3 linked regions of the Homo sapiens genome follow. The protein of the gene in region 1 purifies or fractionates together with the protein of each later gene. This does not show direct contact. Each region holds a gene or a part of one and is shown in the gene's direction. Other genes may lie near its edges.

Region 1 (7,027 bases):
ATCTAGTATTTCTTGAGGATTGAATTCACCAGAAAGAATACTGTTCAACTTAAGAAATTCTCTAAGTATCTCAGTATTTATTTACTTCAGCATATAGCAGATGTTTAACCTTTGGTGATGAAACATAAAAGAGATTTTCCTTTTAATTTGCATCAAAAATTCTTGCTCAGAAGTAATTAGGACTCACTCAAGGTAAAAAGTGAAGGTCAGAAAACTGCAATCTCACTATCATAAAGCTGATATATCTCATTACCACATAAGCAGTGAGAGGGCAAGGATTGTTGTCTATTTTTTTTTCCACCAATATATCCCACGCTCTTAGTGTCTGGCATATAGTAGGTACCCAGAAAATATCTGTGGGATGAATTGGTAAGCAAATGTTTTCCATCCAATATTTTAGCCAATACCCTCAGCAGCTTTGTGAAGATAGGCACTATTATTATCCTCATTAATCATTAGGCTTAGGACACATAAATAATTTCCCCAGGGCCACTCAGCTAGTAATCACAGAACTGGAGCTCAAATCCCCTGCTTTTAACCATTGCAGCATACAGTGTACCCTAGAAAGTCATCGAGGAAATATGATACAGCCCACCTGAGTGGCTTCACCTTTCTCTTCTCCCACAAAAGACGTGTTGCCCACAAAACACTTCATGCTTCTCTCTTTCCATCTGCCCTTTTTCCCTTTCTCTAGGGGAAAGCTGATTAGTAACCAAAGAGATGAGAAACTAGGGAGATGGGACATTTTAAAAATACAAAATATAGTTAGTAGCTGCTTTAAAACTATCATTCCTAATTTTTTAAATACTTAATTGTTGATAGCTTGTGCTGTTCAAAAGCTTTCTCAGAAATGTGTTTCTTTTTTTTTCACCCAGGTTCATTGTCTGAGATCAGTTGATAACTTATTTGTGGTGGTTCAGGAGTTTCAAGATTACCAGTTCAAACAAACAAAGGTGAGCTATCCTAAACATGGTGGCTGATTTTTGGCTGTCTTCCACAAAGAGATTATTTCCATTTTTCATAGTCTGTGAAAGTTTAGCATTACTGTAGTCTTTGTAATAGAGAATACTGGGAGGCTTTTACAGTAAAATCTAGAGTTTTGCTGACAGTCTATCCCAAAAGATGTTTTTTGAAAATTAGTATTGAAAACCATTAAAGTTTATAAGAAAGAAGAAAACACCTTGTTTTACTTGTAAGAGATATAAACCTTAGATTTGCTTTGCTTTTACATATATTTAGTTCCAAAAGAGAATTGCTTCCAGAACATGAACCAAAGAACAAGTGACAGTTTGTGTCTTCTACAAATAACACTTCCTCACCATCCTGCTTTTGCTCTGCTTTCTTCTCTTTCTTCATTTTTTGAAATAAAGCCAAAATAACATCTAAATACTCCTTCAGTTGTTAGGACAACAGCTTTGTCTCCAATATGTATTTAGCATCTGAATCCTAAATATTCAGCTGCTGCCTAAGCTGAAGGTTGAAAATAGATTGCAGCAAGGCTTTAGGTTTTTTCCACACTGCTTTTTGGTTAGGTTTCTAGAGTTAACCGCTTAAAAACATTTTTCTATCAGTTTTACGTATCTTAGAAATAATCTTTTTAAAAACAACTGTGATACGCTACCTAATTGTCTAACTTTTATTTATTGGCAAGCATGTTGATTTCCAAAACGTTATTCAAAAACGAGTCAAAGTTGTATGAACCCTCAGCCTAGAAAACAATAAGACCAGACCTAAAAGAAGTCAGACTTAAGGGCCTGGCGTGGTGGCTCACACCTGTAATCCCAGCACTTTGGGAGGCCGAGGCGGGTGGATCATGAGGTCAGGAGATCGAGACCATCCTGGCTAACACGGTGAAACCCCGTCTCTACTAAAAATATAAAAAATTAGCCGGGCGTAGTGGTGGGCGCCTGTAGTCCCAGCTACTCAGGAGGCTGAGGCAGGAGAATGGCGTGAACCCGGGAGGCGGAGCTGGCAGTGAGCAGAGATCACACCACTGCACTCCAGCCTGGGCGACAGAGCGAGACTCCATCTCAAAAAAAAAAGTCAGACTGAAAATAGATAAAAATTGTATTAAGTAAAAATCTAACTTTTAGAAAAGCTTAAAGCAATTCTAATGAGTTCTCTTAAGTATTCAGATGATAATCATGAATTTATTAGTCCCCACCCCCCTCTTTTAAAAAATATTGAGATGGGGTCTCACTATGTTGCCCAGGCTGGTCTCAAACTTCTGGGCTCAAGTGATCCTCCCACTTAAGCCTCCCAAAGTGCTGGGATTACAGGTGTAAGCCATTGCACCTGGCCCCCATTCCCCACCTCCACCCGCGCATATTTTTTTTTTTTTTTTTTTTGAGACAGAGTCTTGCTCTGTTGCCTAGGCTGGAGTGCAGTGGCACAATCTCAGCCTACTGCAACCTCTGCCACCTGGGTTCAAGCGATTCTCCTGCCTCAGCCTCCCGAGTAGCTGGGACTATAGGCATATGCCACCATGCCCGGCTAATTTTTGTATTTTTAGTAGAGACGGGGTTTCAGCATCTTGGCCAGGCTGGTCTTGAACTCCTGACCTCGTGATCCACCTGTCTTGGCCTCTCAAAGTGCTGGGGTTACAGGCGTAAGCCACCGCGCCTGGCCTCCATCTGCCTTTTTAAAAGTATGAACAAATCTGTGATTTATATGGGTTTTTAAAGACTAGTTAATACATGTATTTGGAGCAAACTTGTAAAGACTGAATGGATATAGAGTGAAAAGTAAGTCTTTGTTCCTATATCCTCATGCTATGCAGCTCCCTCCCTGGAGGCAACAACTGTTAGCAATTTCTTGGGTATTATTCTGGAGATATTTTACGAATAAATGTATTTTATTTACACAAATGAAAGCATAGCATACATACTTTTCTGCGCTATGCTTTTTTTTCATATACAAGTTGAGTATCCCTTATCTGAAATACTCGGGACCAGAAATGTTTTGGATTTTTGTTTGTTTGTTTTTTGAAATATTCTGGGTTGGGCATGGTGGCTCACACCTGTAATCCCAGCACTTTGGGAAGCCAAAGCAGGTGAATCATGAGGTCAGGAGTTTGAGAGCAGCATGGCCAAGGTGGTGAAACACCATCTCTACTAAAAATACAAAAATTAGCCGGGTGCGGTGGCGGGCTTCTGTAATTCCAGCTACTCGGGAGGCTGAGGCAGGAGAATCACTTGAACCCGGGAGGCAGAAGTTGCAGTGAGCCGAGATCACGCCACTGCACTCTAGTCTGGGCAACAGAGCAAGACTCCGTCTCAAAAAAAAAAAAAAAAAAAAAAAAGAAAGAAATACTCTGAGGGTGGAACCTATGTATAAATAAATCCAAGATTCATTTGTTTCATATATACGTTATACGTATAGCTTGACGGTAATTTTATATGATTTTTAAAATAATTTATACATGAAACAAAGTTTGTGTACACTGAACCATCAGAAAGCAAAGGTGTCACTATCTCAGCTACCTGTGTGGCATCATGTTGGCACTTCAAAAAAATTTTAGGTTTTGGATTTTGGACTTTGAGATTAGGAATGTTCAACCTATATGTTGGAGATCCTGGCAGTATCATTGCTGGAATTGGCTGCGTATACTCCATTGTTTGGCTGTATAATAATTTAACCAGTCCCATTTTAGGGCATGAGGGTTTTTCACATTCTTTTGCTATTACAGTGGTGCAACAAATACACTATGTAAATTCTTGTACATATTCAAACTGAGTGTCATCTTTGTGTTTATCCCATTGATACTTATTGATAATGACAACTGTTTAGTCTTAGTTTTGTCATGCTCATACTTTTTGTTTTTTCTTAATTTGAAAAATCTTTACATTATGTCTTTACTTTTTTCATATGCCTGTGTTTTCTAATAGTTTGGAAGGTTTATGTGTGTGTGTTCTAGCTGTTACCTTTATAACTACAATTTGATATTATCTACCTTATCTACCATATATACACGGTATTTTTTGAATCCCTGCTAAAAGCAATGATGAAATTGGCATATTTATACTTTTTTCCTTTATTTTTCAGTTATTTTTCTTAGTGTTCACCCTTAAACTTTTAAATATACTTACATTTTATTTATCAGCTTTAACTTCTATCCTTTGACCTCTGGGTGTAAGAGATGAGGGTATCAGTATGCCCATTTACATGCCAGTTTGTAACATTTACCTTCTGCTTTATAATCACAATCCCTACACTTGTTTTCATTTTAGTGATATAATTAAATAGATTATAGGCACATTATTTGTCCTTTTGTTATAATTTGTATCTGTTGAATGGCATGAGTTCAGAAATGTTTGTCTTTCACCTTTATATTTGGCTGATAGTTTGGGTATAAAATTTGGAGTTAGGCTTTCTTTCCTTAAGAATATTGTAGTCAGTGTTCATTCTCTTTTGTAAAAGATTTATTTTTTTAGACAAGATCTTGCTCTGTTGTCTAAGCTGGAGTGCATTGGCGTGATCATAGCTCATTGGAGCCTTGACCTCCCAGGCTCAAGCAGTCCTCCCATCTCAGCTTCCTGAGTAGCTGGGACTACAGGCACGTGCCACCATGCCCAGTTAATTTTTGTATTTTTTTGTGGAGACAGAGTTTTGCCATGTTGCCCAGTCTGGTCTCAAACTCCTAAGTTCAAGTGATCCACTTGCTTCAGCTTCCTAAAGTGCTGGGATTACAGGCATGAGCCACCATATCCAGCCCAGACTTTTTTTCTTGTCATTATTTCCCAAACAATACAGTATAACAACTATTTCCATAGCATTTACATTGTATCAGGTATCATAGGTAAGATAGAGATGATTTAAGTTACTCTTGAGAGGATGTGTGTAGGTCATATGTAGACACTATACCATTTTATATGAGGGACTTTTGAGCATCTTTGGGTTTTGGTGTCTTTGGCGGTCCTGGAACCAGTGTCCCCCACGGATACCAACTGTCCATAAGCAAAGTAGAGGTTTATTTGTTTGATTATAGTGGTGAGAAATGAATGAATTTCTTTCTCTGTCCTTTACAGGAAGAAGTTCTAAAGGATTTTGAAGACTTGGCTGGAAAACTCCCATGGTCAAACCCCTTAAAAGTGTGGAAAATTAATGCCAGTTTTAAAAAGAAAAAAGCAAAGCGCAAAAAGATAAATCAGAATTCAAGTAAAGAGAAGATTAATAATGGACAAGAAGTCAAAATCGATCAGAGAAATGTTAAAAAAGAGTTCACTAGCCATGCTTTAGATTCTCATATCTTAGATTATTATGAAAATCCAGCCATCAAAGAGGATGTATCAACATTAATAGGTGATGATTTGGCATCTTGCAAAGATGAGACTGATGAAAGCTCAAAAGAAGAAACTGAGCCTCAAGTGCTGAAGTTTAGAGTCACATGCAACAGGGCAGGAGAGAAACATTGCTTTACCTCAAATGAGGCTGCAAGAGATTTTGGGGGTGCTGTTCAAGATTATTTTAAGTGGAAGGCCGACATGACCAACTTTGATGTGGAGGTAGGTATAGGCTCTGACTGTGGTGATTGAAGAATGCTGTCACAGATTTGTAGAATTTCCAGACTAACCCAATGTTATGCACAATTAAACTGAGGAAATAGTAGGGTGTGGTTAAGAAGAGCATAGGCTATGGAGACAGATTTAGATCCAAATTTTAACTCCACAACTGTATAACTTTGGACTAGATAGTCTCTGAGCCTCTGTTTCAAATGGAGCCAATAATATTATGTACCTTTAAGGTTATCCTGAAGGATAAATGAGGTACATTTAAAATATTTGGTGCAATACCTTGCATACACTAAGTGCTCCATAGATGGAAGCCATCAAGGTTGAGTTGTCTGTTTTCTTTTTCTTTTTCGAGACAGAGTCTTGCTCTGTCACCCAGGCTAGAGTGCAGTGGTACGATCTCAGCTCACTGCAGCCTCCACCTTCCTGGTTCAAGTGATTCTTGTGCTCAGCCTCCCAAGTAGCTGGGGCTACAGGCACATGCCACCACACCTGGCTAATTTTTGTATTTTTTAATAGACATGGGGTTTCACCCTGTTGGCCAGGCTGGTCTCAAACTCCTGTAGTGATCTGCCTGTCTTGGCCTCCCAAAGTGCTGGGATTATAGCTGCACCTGGCCTGATTTCTAATAGACTACTCTTTTACTATATTATATGGACTTTCATATTATAAAATTCAACCAGAATTAAAATAGTTATTTTGTTTTTGTGTGTCTTGGTTGCAGAGCTTTGCTACTGAAAAAATAAAATAAGGCTGGGCGCAGTGGCTCACGCCTGTAATCCCAGCACTTTGGGAGGGAGGCCGAGGCAGGTGGATCACTTGAGGTCAGGAATTTGAGACCAGCGTGGCCAATATGGTGAAACCCTGTCTCTACTAAAAATACAAAAATTGGCCCGTCATGATGGCACACTCCTGTGGTCCCAGCTACTGGGGAGGCTGAGGCAGGAGAATCACTTGAACCAGGGAGGTGGAGGTTGCAGTGAGCCAAGATCATGCCACTGCACTTCAGCGTGGGTGACAGAGCAAGACTCCATCTCCAAAAAAAAAAAAAGTGCATTTTTTAAACAAACCCTGACCTTCTCAAACCAGGACATCATTGCTAATACTCATCCTAGAGTCAGCTCTCCTCTTTCTTAAATTCTGCTAGATTTCCAAAGCCAGGTACCTCATTTTAGTATATTTACTTTCCTTGGTCTTAATCCTCTTTTATCTGGGTGATTGACATGTGAACCATAGGAACTAAAGTATTTAAGTCTCTGACACCTTAAAACATCTCTAGCAGCTGATATATTTACCAAAGAGTCAATTTCCGTTGCTTTTGGGACACTTGAATCTGGGGCAAGTCACTGATTCTAACTTTTTTGTGCATGTCAAATCAGGAGTCTAATTCCCCATTCCTTTTTTTCCTCATACACTGCCTTGCAAATGAATACGTGGCTCACACCTGTAATTCCAGTACTTTGGGAGGCCTTGGCAGGCAGATCGCTTGAGCCCAAGAATTTGAGACCAGCCTGGGC
Region 2 (7,027 bases), on another chromosome or scaffold:
GGCCATGCTGGGTTTTTTTTCTCTCAAAAGCATCAAGATTATGCTCATTGGAGGGTCTTTGTATTTGCTGTTGCTTCTGCTTGGAATGTACCTACCCTAGGTCTGTTCATGGCTGCCTTTTTTAAGGCTTAAGTCTTGACTGAAATGTTGCCTCTTCAGGGAGATGTTCCCTGACCACTCTGGCCAAAGCATGCTCTACTTTTTTGTCCTTCAAGGAGCCTATCTGTTCCTGAAGTTCTTAATGTTTGTCTTGCTTCACTAGAACGTAAGCTCCCTGCAGGTACAGACCCTCTATCTCCCATGTCTAGAACACATTATGGGTGCTCAGTAAATATTTGACTAAATGACTGCAGGAAAAAGTCATTAACTGTCCATCTAAATTTTAGTTCACTTTCAGCTTGAACTTCCACAGTGGAGTGAAAAAATGTTCTGGTTATAATCATTGATTGCAAAAGTTACATGTATCTGGAAAACTGCATTGTAACACTAGGCCATGGACTTACGGGGCAATTAGGTAATAATTAAAGATGTAATGAGTTAGTGTCACTATTTTTCACAGATAGCACTTTCTGTTCCGTATCTGAAGCACTCAAAAAATGCAGTCTTAGTATTCATATAAACATGTCTTTAGTTAGCCTTTCCTTATCCTCATTGAATGACTTTGTGGTATGGACAGTCAGCATGAGCTCCAGGGTCCCAGCTCCCCACTCACTCACCGTGTCCTCAGACAAATTGCTAAACTGTCTGTGCATGCTTCTCTTCTGTGCAATGAGAACAGTAATTCCAACCCCACGGGATTCAGCGAAATGAAATGCTTCACAGAAGCCCCTACACATAATATCCTTCATAGTTGGAGGTTGCTAGCTGCTTTTGCTCCTTAATTAAGCAAATAAATTAAACAACGAGAATATTGGTGATACTTGTTATTTCTAAATTGACGCTAATTGTTAATTGTGTTTTGTCCAGTATCGGTGCTAATTATGAGTGGAGCTGACCTATTAGATGATGTCTATATTTGTCTAAAACATTACTACTCTAGTTCTTGCTTTTTTGTCATAATAGAATTGTATTTAAAATTGTAAGTACTTAAAGCAACATATATGTTGTAGGATCTTTTTAAGCAAGATTTTTGTTGATAATGCTTACAGTAATTTAATCTTCAACAAAAACAATATGTTGACCTTAATACATTGGTAGTGTATTAATAATTTTATGTTTGTTCCTCAAGCCCAGTTGTGCATTTCCAGTTTGCCATGACACAGAAGAGCGCTGTAGACTTGTGCTTAGCTATGTTCTAGAGGTAAGTTTAAGTTTAGTCTTCACTTTTTTCGTAAAGTTTGTACTTGATTATGCAAATTACACTTGTTTGTTGGTATCTAAATGTTATTCTGAATTGTGTTCTGCTGCGATTTTTTTTTCCTTAAGCATAAAGTGAAAATCAGATTTGTTTTTCCCAAATCTTTCAGATCAAACATAGTTTTTGAAAGTCTGTTTGTGAGATGGAAATTTTCCTAAACGTATTCAGTAGTCCAGATACTGTCTTATATTTAGTTTTCAGTTGACCTGAAGTTAGATAGATAGTGAATGCTTTTCCTTTTTTTGCAGGGTTTAAAATCTGTCGATAGCAGCATCAAAAAAGAAAGCGACCTTCCAGCAGCTGACCCCAGCACTCCAATCCCGTTAAAATATGAAGATGAATCCTCAAGAGGGGGTCCCGAGGGGCTAGAGAAGCAGATGGCCTTGTTTTTGGACAAAAGTAAGTTGAATTGATGTGCAAATAAGGCCTTCAATAGAATAATACACTGGTTCTTTATCAACAGCAGACTTATGTCAATTAAGGCATTAATTGAAAGGCATTGAGAAAAAGATATCCTGTGAACTGGAATTAGGGGTAGTATTCTTTCATTTGAAATATAAAAAGGATAATTTTGATGTTTCATGGACATTTCTAATAAGAGCATAAGGAGCCTGCATCTTCCTGTTACCCACAGTGGGGAACTAATGCTTCAGCCTGGTGGAGTTCTCGCTGGATCGTGTAGGAGCCACAGACTTAGCCAGACTGCCTAACTTCATATCTTGGCTTTGCGAGGGCAAGTTGCTCCACTTCTTTGAGTCACTTTTTATCTCTTTCAAAATGGAGACGATAATAATGGTTTCTTTAAAGGGTTGTTAAATGATTAAATGATTAATATATGTAAAGTGCTCAGAACAGTGTACATAATAAGCACTATAGAAGTGTAGGCTGTTGTTACTGCACAGTACTTGAATAAGCTACAAATGTCACTTTTAAATTATCTAGTTCTTCAGGAATATAACATCATGAAGAATATATGGACTTCGAAGCAGAAGTTGTGAATTTCTTATTTTAACCTAAGTTGTATTTCTTTTTCCAACCTTATTTCTTTCCCCCTTTTAAATCAGTTTCAATTGTTTAAAAAAAAAAAAAGTGTAGAAAGCCTGTATGTTTGAAGTACATCTGAATCATAGTGGAAGCGCTTTCTGGACCCTTCTTCTTTTCCTGAACAAACATGGTGGAGGTAGGAGAGGAATAGATTTATTTCCCCAGCATTTATATAGTGCTGCTGGTATGCCAGGCTTCGGCCTACAGGCAGTAAGGAGATCACACCAGGACTTTTGCCATTCTTTTTTTCTGAAATGCCTTTTCTGTCTCCTTCTCCATCTCCCCTGTTGAAAATCCTGCTCAAGCTCAGAATCTCCATGTTTCCCTCTGTTCTCCATCAGAATTACTTGATTCTCTTACCACTTTGTCCTGTGAGCCTGCCTTATGTCAGAGTTCCAGCATTAAATGGTTTTACACACACATGCACACACACGGTTGTGAACAAGAACTTCATCTTAATTTTAGTTTCTCACAATGCCTCTTACTCACAGATGATGCTTATATCAGCAGAGGAAAAAAATCCATACACACATTAAACCATAATGAAGACTAAGTACCTTTCATTGCCTTGAAAGACTTGTGTTCTAGCTGATTAAAAAATGAGAAACCTTCAGGCTGGGGGAAGGGGTGGGTGTTTTTGTTATTTGCAGAGCAAAATTTTCCACAGTATTTTGTTCTTTGTCTGTTAATTACACTTAACATATTTTGTTGTGGTTTATGTTATCAAGGATAGAGGCCATATAACTTCATGTCACAGTTTCCAGTGCCTGGCACAGTACTTGGCAGAAAAATGATCATTTGTTGAGTAAAGAAGGTAGCGATGGGCTGGACTTTAAATAAAGAGTATTCCTTGTAGAGGAAACAGTAAACTAAGATGGGAGATAGGAAAAACAGGCATGTTTATAGGTGACAAGCAGTAACTTAACATTGGCTGATGGGTAGTAGGATGGACAAGTAGGAAGTGAGACTGAGAAACATGCAACTAGCTAAGTGGGGAGAAGCCGTTTTCATGTTTGAGGACAGGCTTTCACGCTGATCTAAGCTGTGCTTTAGGAAGGTAAACTTTGACAGGTTGACACATAGACTGGAAAAAGGAGACAGGTGTCACTCATGAGGTTAGCTATGTCAGTGACACTGGAAGAGAATGACAGAGTTGCCGATGTCAGGGAAGCAGAAGGCCTTAGAACTCCCAAGTGAGAGTCTTTTAACACGGCCATTTCACTCCAGTGTATTTAAGCAGTAAAGCATAGTATTTACCAGTCTTGTCACCTAAGTCTAGAGTGTTTCCATCAAGAAACAGAAAATATTTTTTGTGCATGAGACTTACAGTCAAATGAAATGTGCTGTCTTTTTTTTTCTCTCCATGTCACAGTGGGCTCCCTTCAGAAGGGCAATTATTCCAGTCAATCTGGAATGATCCCTGGCTCTTGGCAACATAAAATGAAACTTCAGCTGATTCTCAAGTCATCAAAGGCCTATTATGTTTTGTCCGATGCTGCCATGAGTCTTCAGAAATACGGAAGAGCATTACGATACATTAAATTAGCTTTGCAAAGCCATGGTAAGCCACTATAAATGAATATGTTTAATAGGCACTGGGAAGAGAGAACAGAGAAGGCATCTGAATCACAGTGGAAGTTTACTCCTATTTTTCTAGTAAATCTTTATTTTAAAATGACTGTTTCCAATCCTGTGTGTGTTACCTTCTATTTTAGTTTCTGCTCAGTGGTTTAACATCTCTTTGCTTTGAACTACATGAAGCCGTAATATGTATTGTTGGACCTAAAATAAACAGAATAGATACAGTGCTACAAAGCGTTCAGCTGGTAACACAGTTTCTTCATATTTCCTATGATCATTAATTTTTTTCTGCATTTGTGTTTTTTCTTCTTCCCTCCCTTTCTAAACAGATACTTATTGCTGCCTCTGCACCAATATGCTTTCCGAAGTGCTGTTGTTTCTCTCTCAATATTTGACACTTTGTGGTGATATCCAACTAATGCTGGCCCAGAATGCAAATAATAGAGCAGCACACCTTGAAGAGTTTCATTACCAAACAAAAGAAGACCAGGAGATCCTGCATAGCCTTCACAGAGAGTCCAGTTGCCAAGGTGTGCCACAGGCTTGGACCACGTGGTTCACAGTGGGACTGTGCAGTCTAGCTCATGCTTATTTGAGTATTCAGAAAAGGGGTAGAAATATTAGAGTTTTGATATTTGCTCTGTATTTATTTATTTATTTTTTGAGACGGAGTTTCGCTCTTGTTGCCCAAGCTGGAGTGCAATGGTGCAATCTTGGCTCACTGAAACCTCCGCCTCCCGGGTTCAAGCAATTCTCCTGCCTCAGCCTCCCAAGTAGCTGGAATTACAGGCATGCGCCACCATGCCCGGCTAGCCCACCTTGGCCTCCCAAGGTGCTGGGATTACAGGTGTGAGCCACCACGCCTGGCCTGCTGTTTTATTCATTTCCTAATTTTAAGATTAAGCATGATCTTGTGTATTTGTATAAAATGGTTTTTAAGTATTTTATAATTACTGTTTATATAACTAGAACTAAATATAAAGTAAGATATGAAGACAGTTGTGTCAACTTTTTATTTTATTTTATTTATTTATTTTTTTGAGACACAGTCTCGCTCTGCCACACAGGCTGGAGTGCAGTGGGGCAGTCTTGGCTCACTGCAACCTCCACCTCCTGGGTTCAAGTGATCCTCCCATCTCAGTCTCCCAAGTAGCTGGGACTAGTACATGCGCCACCACACCTAGCTAATTTTTGTATTTTTGTTAGAGACAGGGTTTCACCACGTTGCCCCAGACTGGTCTCAAACTCCTCAACTCAAGCGATCCTCCCACCTTGGCCTCCCAAAGTGCTGGGATTACAGGCACGAGCCACTGCACCCAGCCTTGTGTCAGCTTTTTACACTCTTCTTTTCATGAGGTTCTTCTAGGTAACACTTGTAGTCAGCTAACAAAGCCATAGGTTTCCTTTTGAAAGGTATAACAGTTGGTGAAGGAGGTTAATTAACCTTCTGAATGATTCCTTGGGGCTGAAATAAAGTGATCATTGTTTTTAAAGTTAGTTCATAGCCACCTGTCTTGCTTAATATGTCACTCTGTTTGGAATTGTCAGGCTTTAAAACTGGGAAGTAGAATAATCTGATCCGCAGCAGCGATATCCCTCCCTCTTACCTCAGCACAGTGTGTAACCACGCTGCCATTAACACAGTGAATGAAGTAAAAGATGAGTCTTCTGAAGGTGCTTCTGTAATGTCTCATGGGGTTGTTTTATTATGCTCTTAAATTGTTATACTGAATATTACTTGATGTTTGCCTCCCAGAGTTTTAGACAATTCATAGCTAGAGGAGTATACTGGGGGAGAGGGAAAAATGTGTTATTTTGTAATAGTTTTGCCCTTTCTTCCCCTCTCTCCGTCTTTCTCAAATAATCATGTTTTAATGTAGTAGGAAAGTCCTTGGTGTATTTTTACTACTCCCATCATAGCAATTTCAGTTAAATATTCTTTTTACTCTAGTCCCCACTAGATGGCATTTTTAATCTTCGAGGGCTTCTGTAGCAGCCTCTTCAGTGACTTAAAGTTAATATTGGGACATTATTTCAAGAACTATTTCCATTAGTTAAAAATAGCAACTTTACTTTGTATTAGTGGACAACTTTAGGTCCATTCTAATAAACAAGTGTACCTGGGAAAACCTGGGTCACAGAAATTGTTTGATATTCATAGGCAGGAAAATATTTTTATCCAACATTAATATCCCAAGAAATATAATTTTATAAATAAATAGATCTTTATTATGAAACTTAAATATTGTTGTATTGATTGAATCTTGGTATACTTACACTATATTGCATTTTTTATTACTTAGAATTTAGAATCTCAGGTTCATTTGGATACTGAGGAAGAAGGAATCACATGATTCGCATTGATGTATCCCTTTTTTCTTTTCAGGATTTGCATGGGCAACTGATTTGTCTACAGACTTAGAAAGTCAACTCTCTGTTAGTTGTAAATGTTATGAGGCTGCTAATGAAATCTTGCAGTTTAGTGACTTGAAAAGCCAAAATCCAGAACACTATGTACAAGTATTAAAGAGAATGGGTAACATTAGAAATGAAATTGGTGTGTTTTACATGAATCAGGCTGCTGCATTACAGAGTGAGAGACTAGGTGAGTATCTCTTTAGATTCCTCTCTATTGCTTGTTCTCTCAGAAAATTATGCTAATTTTGTATGAGTCAAGCAAAGAACTGTGGCACTTGATTTTATATCATAAAGAGGTGCTCTATTAGAGAACCTCTTATTATTCTTAAGAAATAGAATTAGGAACACATGATTTTCCCTTGGAATGAATTATTTCAATGTTCTTCATTCTTACTTTTGTACTCACTCCATCTGATCAATTCAGAAGCAAATGGGACATCCAGCCATGTGCCAGGCTCTATGTTGGATATGTAACTGGCTAAAATATGGTTCTCTCTTCATGTTGGGAAGCTAGATAGGAACACAAAGCCTCAAAATGCTGTGGATGAGTACCGACGAAGTATAATGGGAGACTGGGGAAATAAGACATTTATGGAGGTTATAAGTTAGAAGGCTTTTGGGAAAGTG
Region 3 (7,027 bases), 3.1 Mb from region 1:
AATTTTTCACCTTCATATTTAAAAAGAAATGTGACCCCATTTTACCACTGGCTACCATTTGGTCACTACCTGCTCTGCACCAATCTCATGGGAATCCCTTCAGTGGTATCTGTAGACCCTAAGCGCCCTGGACAGGCAAAGCCAACAACACATGGCTCTTTGGGTGGTGTCAGTGTTTGGCAGTGTATTACTTTAACAGAAAGCCATTTTCATTTCCATTTAAGTGTGACTATATTCAACTGGAGCCAATTTTCTTTGCCATTCCTACAGCCTCCCCCCACACAGTAAAATATATCATTATGTGAGGTCAGTGCAAACATAGGGTTCTAGAAAATCACTTCACCAAAGATGACTGGGAAACTAGTATTTTGTCAGGTAAGCAAAATCAGCACTGCCCCACACTTTTCACACCTTTTTTTTTTGTTGATATATTTTTCTCAATTTAAATATGGTTATTTAATTTTACAGGGAGAAACTCCAATGAGCAACAGTTTCTATTGCTATAGCTGTTAACATCATTCTTCAGTTATATAGGTTTTTTAGGGAATAAATATGGAAACATTCATAAAAATCTTTTATTTTTATTGATTTAAGCCAGTTTGTAACATTTGTATTTTCTTAGATTTTTAAAAAAATCTAAGACATTTGAATGAACCATTTATATTAAAAATATGTGACTTTTGGCCAGGTGTGGTGGCTCACACCTGTAATCCCAGCACTTTGGGAGGCCGAGGCAGGTGGATCATGAGGTCAGGAGATCGAGACCATCCTGGCTAACACTGTGAAACCCGTCTCTACTGAAAAAAATACAAAAAATTAGCCGGGCGTGGCGGCGGGCGCCTGTAGTCCCAGCTACTCGGGAGGCTGAGGCAGGAGAATGGTGTGAACCCAGGAGGCGGAGCTTGCAGTGAGCGGAGATGTGCCACCGCACTCCAGCCTGGACGACAGAGTGAGACTCCGTTTCAAAAACAAACAAACAAAATATATGTGTGTGTGTGTGTGTGTGTGTGTGTGTGTGTGTGTGTGTGACCTTTTTGATGATGACTTAAGAGCATTTGTATTTGAGGTGAAAAGAGATCAGTCTGTAAAATGGTTTCACAAGAATGTGAAACTATTTGTAATGAGCATTTTCTGCTTGCTGTATTTTCAGGCCTTTTTCTTGGTCTATGCTCTGGGATGTTTAAGTATTTACTATGAGAAGGTAAGATGCTTTGTTTACATACAACCCACTTAAAATTTCCCTGTTGTTAAAAGCAGGTTGTACTAATTTCTATATTGCATTAATACAAATGTTTCTACTCTTACTGAATAAAATAGGAATTGAATTTTTCTCTAAAGTTTTGGATTTGGGTCCTGAGGTGGGACTGTTCGAGCAAAAGGCATCTTTGACCCTTTTAGATTGCATTTCATTCCTCAAAACTAGGAGAAGTACAGTATCTTGTACTGGATAATGATTAGGAAATCTGTGTCAGAACAGTATTAAAAATTAACAAAAATAAAAGTTACCCGTATTTGGCACCTACTATGGTAAAAGCTATATTTTAGGTACTTTACACGCAATATTTCCAGTCCTTATCTCCACCTGGTTAGAATTTGCAGATAAGGGGCCGGGCCCGGTGGCTCACGCCTGTAATCCCAGCACACTGGGGGGCCGAGGCGGGCAGATCACAAGGTCAGGAGATCGAGACCATCCTGGCTATCCTGGCTAACATGGTGAAACCCTGTCTCTACTAAAAAAATACAAAAAATTAGCCGGGCGTGTTGGCATGCGCCTGTAGTTCCAGCTAATCAAGAGGCTGAGGCAGGAGAATGGCATGAACCTGGGAGGTGGAGGTTGCAATGAGCCGAGATAGCGCCACTGCTCTCCAGCCTGGGCGACAGACCGAGACTCTGTCTCAAAAAAAAAAAAAAGAATTTGCAGATAAGGTAACTGAGGCTCAGAGAAAATAAATAATGTACCCAAAGTCACACAGCTAGTCTGGTTAGAATAAATATTCGAACCTATGTCCAAGTAACTCCAAAGCCCATGACTTTGTGCTGTTGTTGCCTGCTGCCTTTGGAAGGGAGATAATTGTAAAATAATTCAAATAAAATTTAAAAGAGAAAAGTAAACAGAACAGTAAATGGAGCAGATAAGGTATATTCTGTTTGGCTCTTGGGAGCACATAATTTAATCAGTCATCAAATTCTGATTGCATAAATACCGTTCATGGGTATTCCAGCCGTTTGGAAGCAATGTCTGCCTGACAAATGGCTCATTTTCCCAAATGGTGGCAATTCTTAGCCCCACCCTGCTTCCTCTCGCGGGCCTTAGCTGAAATGTGTCAGAACGTTACAGCTGTGACATAAAAGCCTCAACATCTGAACAACACTGGGCTGTGTTGGAAATTCAGCCTTCTCTATAAGGCTGTTGCTTGTTACTCACATTGGGGTCACAAGGTCACACAGGTATGGAATTTTTGCATTAGGAACAACTGCAAAAAAAAAACAACTCTAGTCTATTGTATTATAATCTTAGGCTGGGACAAACTGAGCCAGTCTCACTGAGTGACTGAGCCTTAAATCAGCTGAAGACTTGATTGTTTCAGTAACTACTGAAATAAAGCAAAAATTTTCCAAACTTACCTAGTTATTTTGTTGTCATTGTATTTTTGGTAATGATACATCAGAATATTCTCTAGACCAAACTATTCTCATTCTCTTTGACTCCCACATTAAAAACAAAATTGTCTTTTAAGCAGTTAATTATTAGTTTGTGCCATCAGATAACAAATTCTCTAGTTTCAAACACTAAATGGAGGTTTGTTTGTTTGTTTTTAAGTTTTACTATAAAAGTGTTTTTTGTTCTTCTGAACATGAGCTGACATAGAGTAGCCACTCACTAAGGGTCTGTGAAATGTTGTCACGAACTGTGCTCCAGCCTTGGTGGGCTTGTTACAGTGAGCCCCCTGCATGCACTGCTTCCTCTGCCTGGAATGTCCTTCCCAGCCCACCACCACCCCCTCCAGTCCTTTTCCCTCACTACTTGTCATGCTCAAATGCTGCCTTTTCTAAGTCCTCTGGAGCAGTGCTGTGCAATAGAAGGACAGTGAGAGCCTCAGATGGGAGCCATGTGTATAATTTCAGATTTTCTGGTAACCACATTAAAAACATTTTTTAAAAAGCAGGTGGTATTTTAATACAGTATTACACAGTTTATTTAACCCAACTTATTCAAAGATATTGAAATAGTTTATATTCTCTCTTTTTTTTTTTTTTCATACTGAGTAGGAAGTCAGTGTATATTTTACACTTAGAGCCACTCTCAGTTCAGACTAGCTATGTATGGCTGGCAGCTGCCCCACTGGACAGGGCAGGACCAGACCTTCTTGCTAAATTGCTCTGCTGGGAGTGAACCGAGATCACGCCACTGCACTCCGGCCTGGGTGACAGAGCGAGACTCTGTCTCAAAAATAAAATAAATAAATTGCTCTGCTGGGGGAACTGCATTTTCTTCACTGCTTCAGCTCCACACTTAGTATAGATGTTGGTGCCCTGGCTGAACGGAGAGTGAATGCATACATAGTAATGCTTTTTGTTTTTTTGTAAATAACTTTAGGAGCCTTTAACGATAGTGAAGCTCTGGAAAGCTTTCACTGTAGTTCAGCCCACGTTCAGAACCACCTACATGGCCTACCATTACTTTCGAAGCAAGGGCTGGGTGCCCAAAGTGGGACTCAAGTACGGGACAGATTTACGTAAGTAATTCTTGGCGTGGTGTGTGTGAGAATAGAGTTTATATCAGATTCACCCTAGAATATCAAATTGATCTTGTGTGCTGTTGATGATGTTTTCTAAGAAGGTATCCTTTGGGTTTAGATAAGATTATTGGATATTTGGATTGGGTTAAGGGTAAGTGCAAAAAGAGAAAAGGCAGTCTAGGGAGAAGGCCTAGGAGTAGAAGCTTGCAACGCCAGTTCAGGCTTTCCCTCTTGTTTGCTCTATGATCTTAGAAAAGCGTTCTGGCTGAGCGCCGTGGCTTACGCATGTAATCCCAGCACTTTGGGAGGCCAAGGTGGGTGGATCACGAGGTCAGGAGATCGAGACCATCCTGACTAACAAAGTGAAACCCCTTCTCTACTAAAAAATATAAAAAATTAGCTGGGCGTGGTAGCGGGTGTCTGTAGTCCCAGCTACTCGGGAGGCTGAGGCAGGAGAATGGCGTGAACCCGGGAGGCAGAACTTGCAGTGAGCCGAGATCGCGCCATTGCACCCCACCTGGACGACAGGGCAAGACTCCGTCTCAAAAGGAAAAAAAAAGAAAAAGCATTCTATAGCACCCACCCCCACGTCTCTAGCCATGAGATCGGGTAATTTGGGAGAGTCCCTTATCCCCGGGCCTCAGTGGCCTCATCTGCCAAGTGAGAACAATCATATAATTGTAATAATCGCCACAGCCATCATTGAGCACTTGCCATGTGCCAAGCATTTTACTAAGTATTTTACATTCATCATCTTGTTTAATCCTTACAGTAGTCCTATGCAGTGGAGACGCTTACTGTCTTTTTTTTTTTTTGAGACGGAGTCTCGCCCTGTTGCCCAGGCTGGAGTGCCAGTGGCACAATCTTGGCTCACTGCAACCTCCACCCCATGGGTTCACGCCGTTCTCCTGCCTCAGCCTCCCGAGTAGCTGGGAATACAGGCGCCCGCCATCACACCCGGCTAATTTTTTGTATTGTTAGTACAGACAAGGTTTCCCCGTGCCAGCCAGGATGGTCTCGATCTCCTGAGCTCGTCATCTGCCCACTTCAGCTTCCCAAAGTGCTGGGATTATAGGTGTGAGCCACCATGCCGGCCGTATTGTCTTCATTTTCTGATAGGGAGACTACAGTTTAGAAAAAGTAGGTCATTGCCCATAATAGTTTCCAGGGCCAGTAACTTGCAAAGCTGCACTTTGAATTCTGAAGCCCACGCTTTTAGAAATGTCTGACAGTACTGCCTCCCTTGATCTTTTCTTTTTAATTAAATCAATATTTTACTTATTTAATTTTTTTAACTTTAAATTTAGGGCCAGGTGCGGTGGCTCACGCCTGTAATCCCAGCACTTTGGGAGGCCGAGGCGGGCAGATCGCTTGAGGTCAGGAGTTTGAGACCAGCCTGACCAACATGGTGAAACCCCGTTTCTACTAAAAATACAAAAATTAGCTGGGCGTGGTAGCAGGCACTTGTAATCCCAGCTATTTGGGAGGCTGAGGCAGGAAAATTGCTTGATCCCGGGAGGCAGAGGTTGTAGTGAGCTGAGATCACGCCACTACACTCCAGCCTGGGTGACAGAGACTCCACCTCAAAAAAAAAAAATTTTTAGGTTCAAGGGTACATGTGCAGGTTTGTTACATGGGTAAATTCATGTGACAGGGGTTTGTTGTACAGATTATTTGATCACCCAGGTACTAGGCCTAGTACCCAGTAGTTATCTTTTCTGCTCCTCTCCCTCCTCCCTCTCTTCACCCTCAGGTAGACCCCAGCGTCTGTTGTTCCCTTCTTTGTGTTCATAAGTTCTCTTCATTTAATTCCCACTTACAAGTAAGAATATGTGGTATTTGGTTGTCTGTTCCTGTGTTAGTTTGCTAAGGATAACAGCCTCCAGCTCCATCCATGTTCTCACAAAAGACACGATCTTGTCCATTTTTGTGGCTGCCTAGTATTCCACTGCATCCCCCAATCTTAAAGTGAGGGTCTGGAGTAGGTGAGTTCCTCATTCAGCAGATAATGACTAAAGGTCTGCTGTGGGCCAGGTACTGTTTGAGGCATCAAGAATACAGAAGTGAACAGGACAAACAGAGCTGCCTTCATGGAGTTTACATTCTAGGGGGATGGGGGAGACACACAAGCAAATAACTACATGACGTAGTTTCTGCAACAGATAAGCACTGTAAGAAGAAGCAGAGTCAAGGCTACCCAAGGTCAACTGTAGTCAAAAAGATTCAGATATCTGCTGGGCACAGTGGCTCACGCCTGGATTCTCAGCACTTTGGGAGGCCGAGGCAGGTGGGTCACCTGAGGTCAGGAGTTTGAGACCAGCCTTGCCAACGTGGTGAAACCCTGTGTCTAGCACAAATACAGAAATTAGCTGGGTGTGGTGGTGCATGCCTGTAATCTGAGCTACTTGGGAGGCTAAGGCACGAGAATCTCTTGAACTTGGGAGGCAGAGGTTGCAGTGAGCCAAGATCACACCACTGCACTCCAGCCTGCACAAGAGAGTAAGAGTCTCTTAAAAAAAAATAAAAATAGGCTGGGCGCGGTGGCTCACGCCTGTAATCCCAACACTTTGGGAGGCTGAGGCGGGCTGATCATGAGGTCAGGAGATCGAGACCATCCTGGCTAACACGGTGAAACCCCATCTCTACTAAAAATACAAAAAATTAGCCAGACGTGGTGGCAGGTGCCTGTAGTCCCAGCTACTCAGGAGGCTGAGGCAGGAGAATGGCGTGAACCCAGGAGGCGGAGCTTGCAGTGAGCCGATTGCGCTACTGCACTCCAGCCTAGGCAACAGAGTGAGACTGTCTCAAAAAATAATAATAAAAAATAAAAATAAAAAATAAAAATTAAGATATTTTGAGAGATCAGATTCTCATAACTTTCATTATAGTGTATTGTTATAATTGTTCATTTTATTAATGTTCTTAATCTCATACTGTGGTTCTTTTGTCTGCAACTTTATTTTAATGATCAAGTTATACTTTGGATGATGCATAGGGGAAGCTTCCTTAATTTAAAGATATTCTGCCTTATAAGGATGGTTGGACAGATGGATAGATGGATGGACAGATAAATAGAATTTTGAAAACAAAAAAGATAAACTACTCAGTTTACAACTCCCCTGGAGGCCTTTGCCCTCACTGGGACATATCATCTAGAAACAGATGTACAATTAATACATTAATTGTACAATTAATGTGGGACCAGGTCTCTGACCCACACACAGAGTCAGACTGGGCCAGCATCAGTGTTAAAAGTGTCTTCACATTCTCTGCATAAGCAAAGGTTC

Evidence for each region. Proteins that work in one complex are often made in the same cells at the same time.
Region 2: the proteins of THUMPD3 (region 1) and EDRF1 purify together in Homo sapiens (affinity purification with mass spectrometry; 2 studies listed by BioGRID and IntAct, with this or other methods). This does not show direct contact.
Region 3: the proteins of THUMPD3 (region 1) and TSEN2 purify together in Homo sapiens (co-immunoprecipitation; 2 studies listed by BioGRID and IntAct, with this or other methods). This does not show direct contact.

The regions. Positions count from the first base shown.
Region 1 is NC_000003.12:9,366,033-9,373,059, forward strand, and holds part of THUMPD3 (tRNA (guanine(6)-N(2))-methyltransferase THUMP3), read left to right. Parts: intron 1-875; coding exon 876-953; intron 954-5,027; coding exon 5,028-5,504; intron 5,505-7,027. UniProt on the Homo sapiens protein: Catalytic subunit of the THUMPD3-TRM112 methyltransferase complex, that specifically mediates the S-adenosyl-L-methionine-dependent N(2)-methylation of guanosine nucleotide at position 6 (m2G6) in tRNAs.
Region 2 is NC_000010.11:125,736,690-125,743,716, forward strand, and holds part of EDRF1 (erythroid differentiation-related factor 1), read left to right. Parts: intron 1-1,228; coding exon 1,229-1,300; intron 1,301-1,605; coding exon 1,606-1,756; intron 1,757-3,773; coding exon 3,774-3,962; intron 3,963-4,311; coding exon 4,312-4,512; intron 4,513-5,530; coding exon of another isoform or gene 5,531-5,550; exon of another isoform or gene 5,551-6,225; intron 6,226-6,368; coding exon 6,369-6,587; intron 6,588-7,027. UniProt on the Homo sapiens protein: Transcription factor involved in erythroid differentiation. Involved in transcriptional activation of the globin gene.
Region 3 is NC_000003.12:12,515,461-12,522,487, forward strand, and holds part of TSEN2 (tRNA-splicing endonuclease subunit Sen2), read left to right. Parts: intron 1-1,150; coding exon 1,151-1,201; intron 1,202-3,598; coding exon 3,599-3,737; intron 3,738-7,027.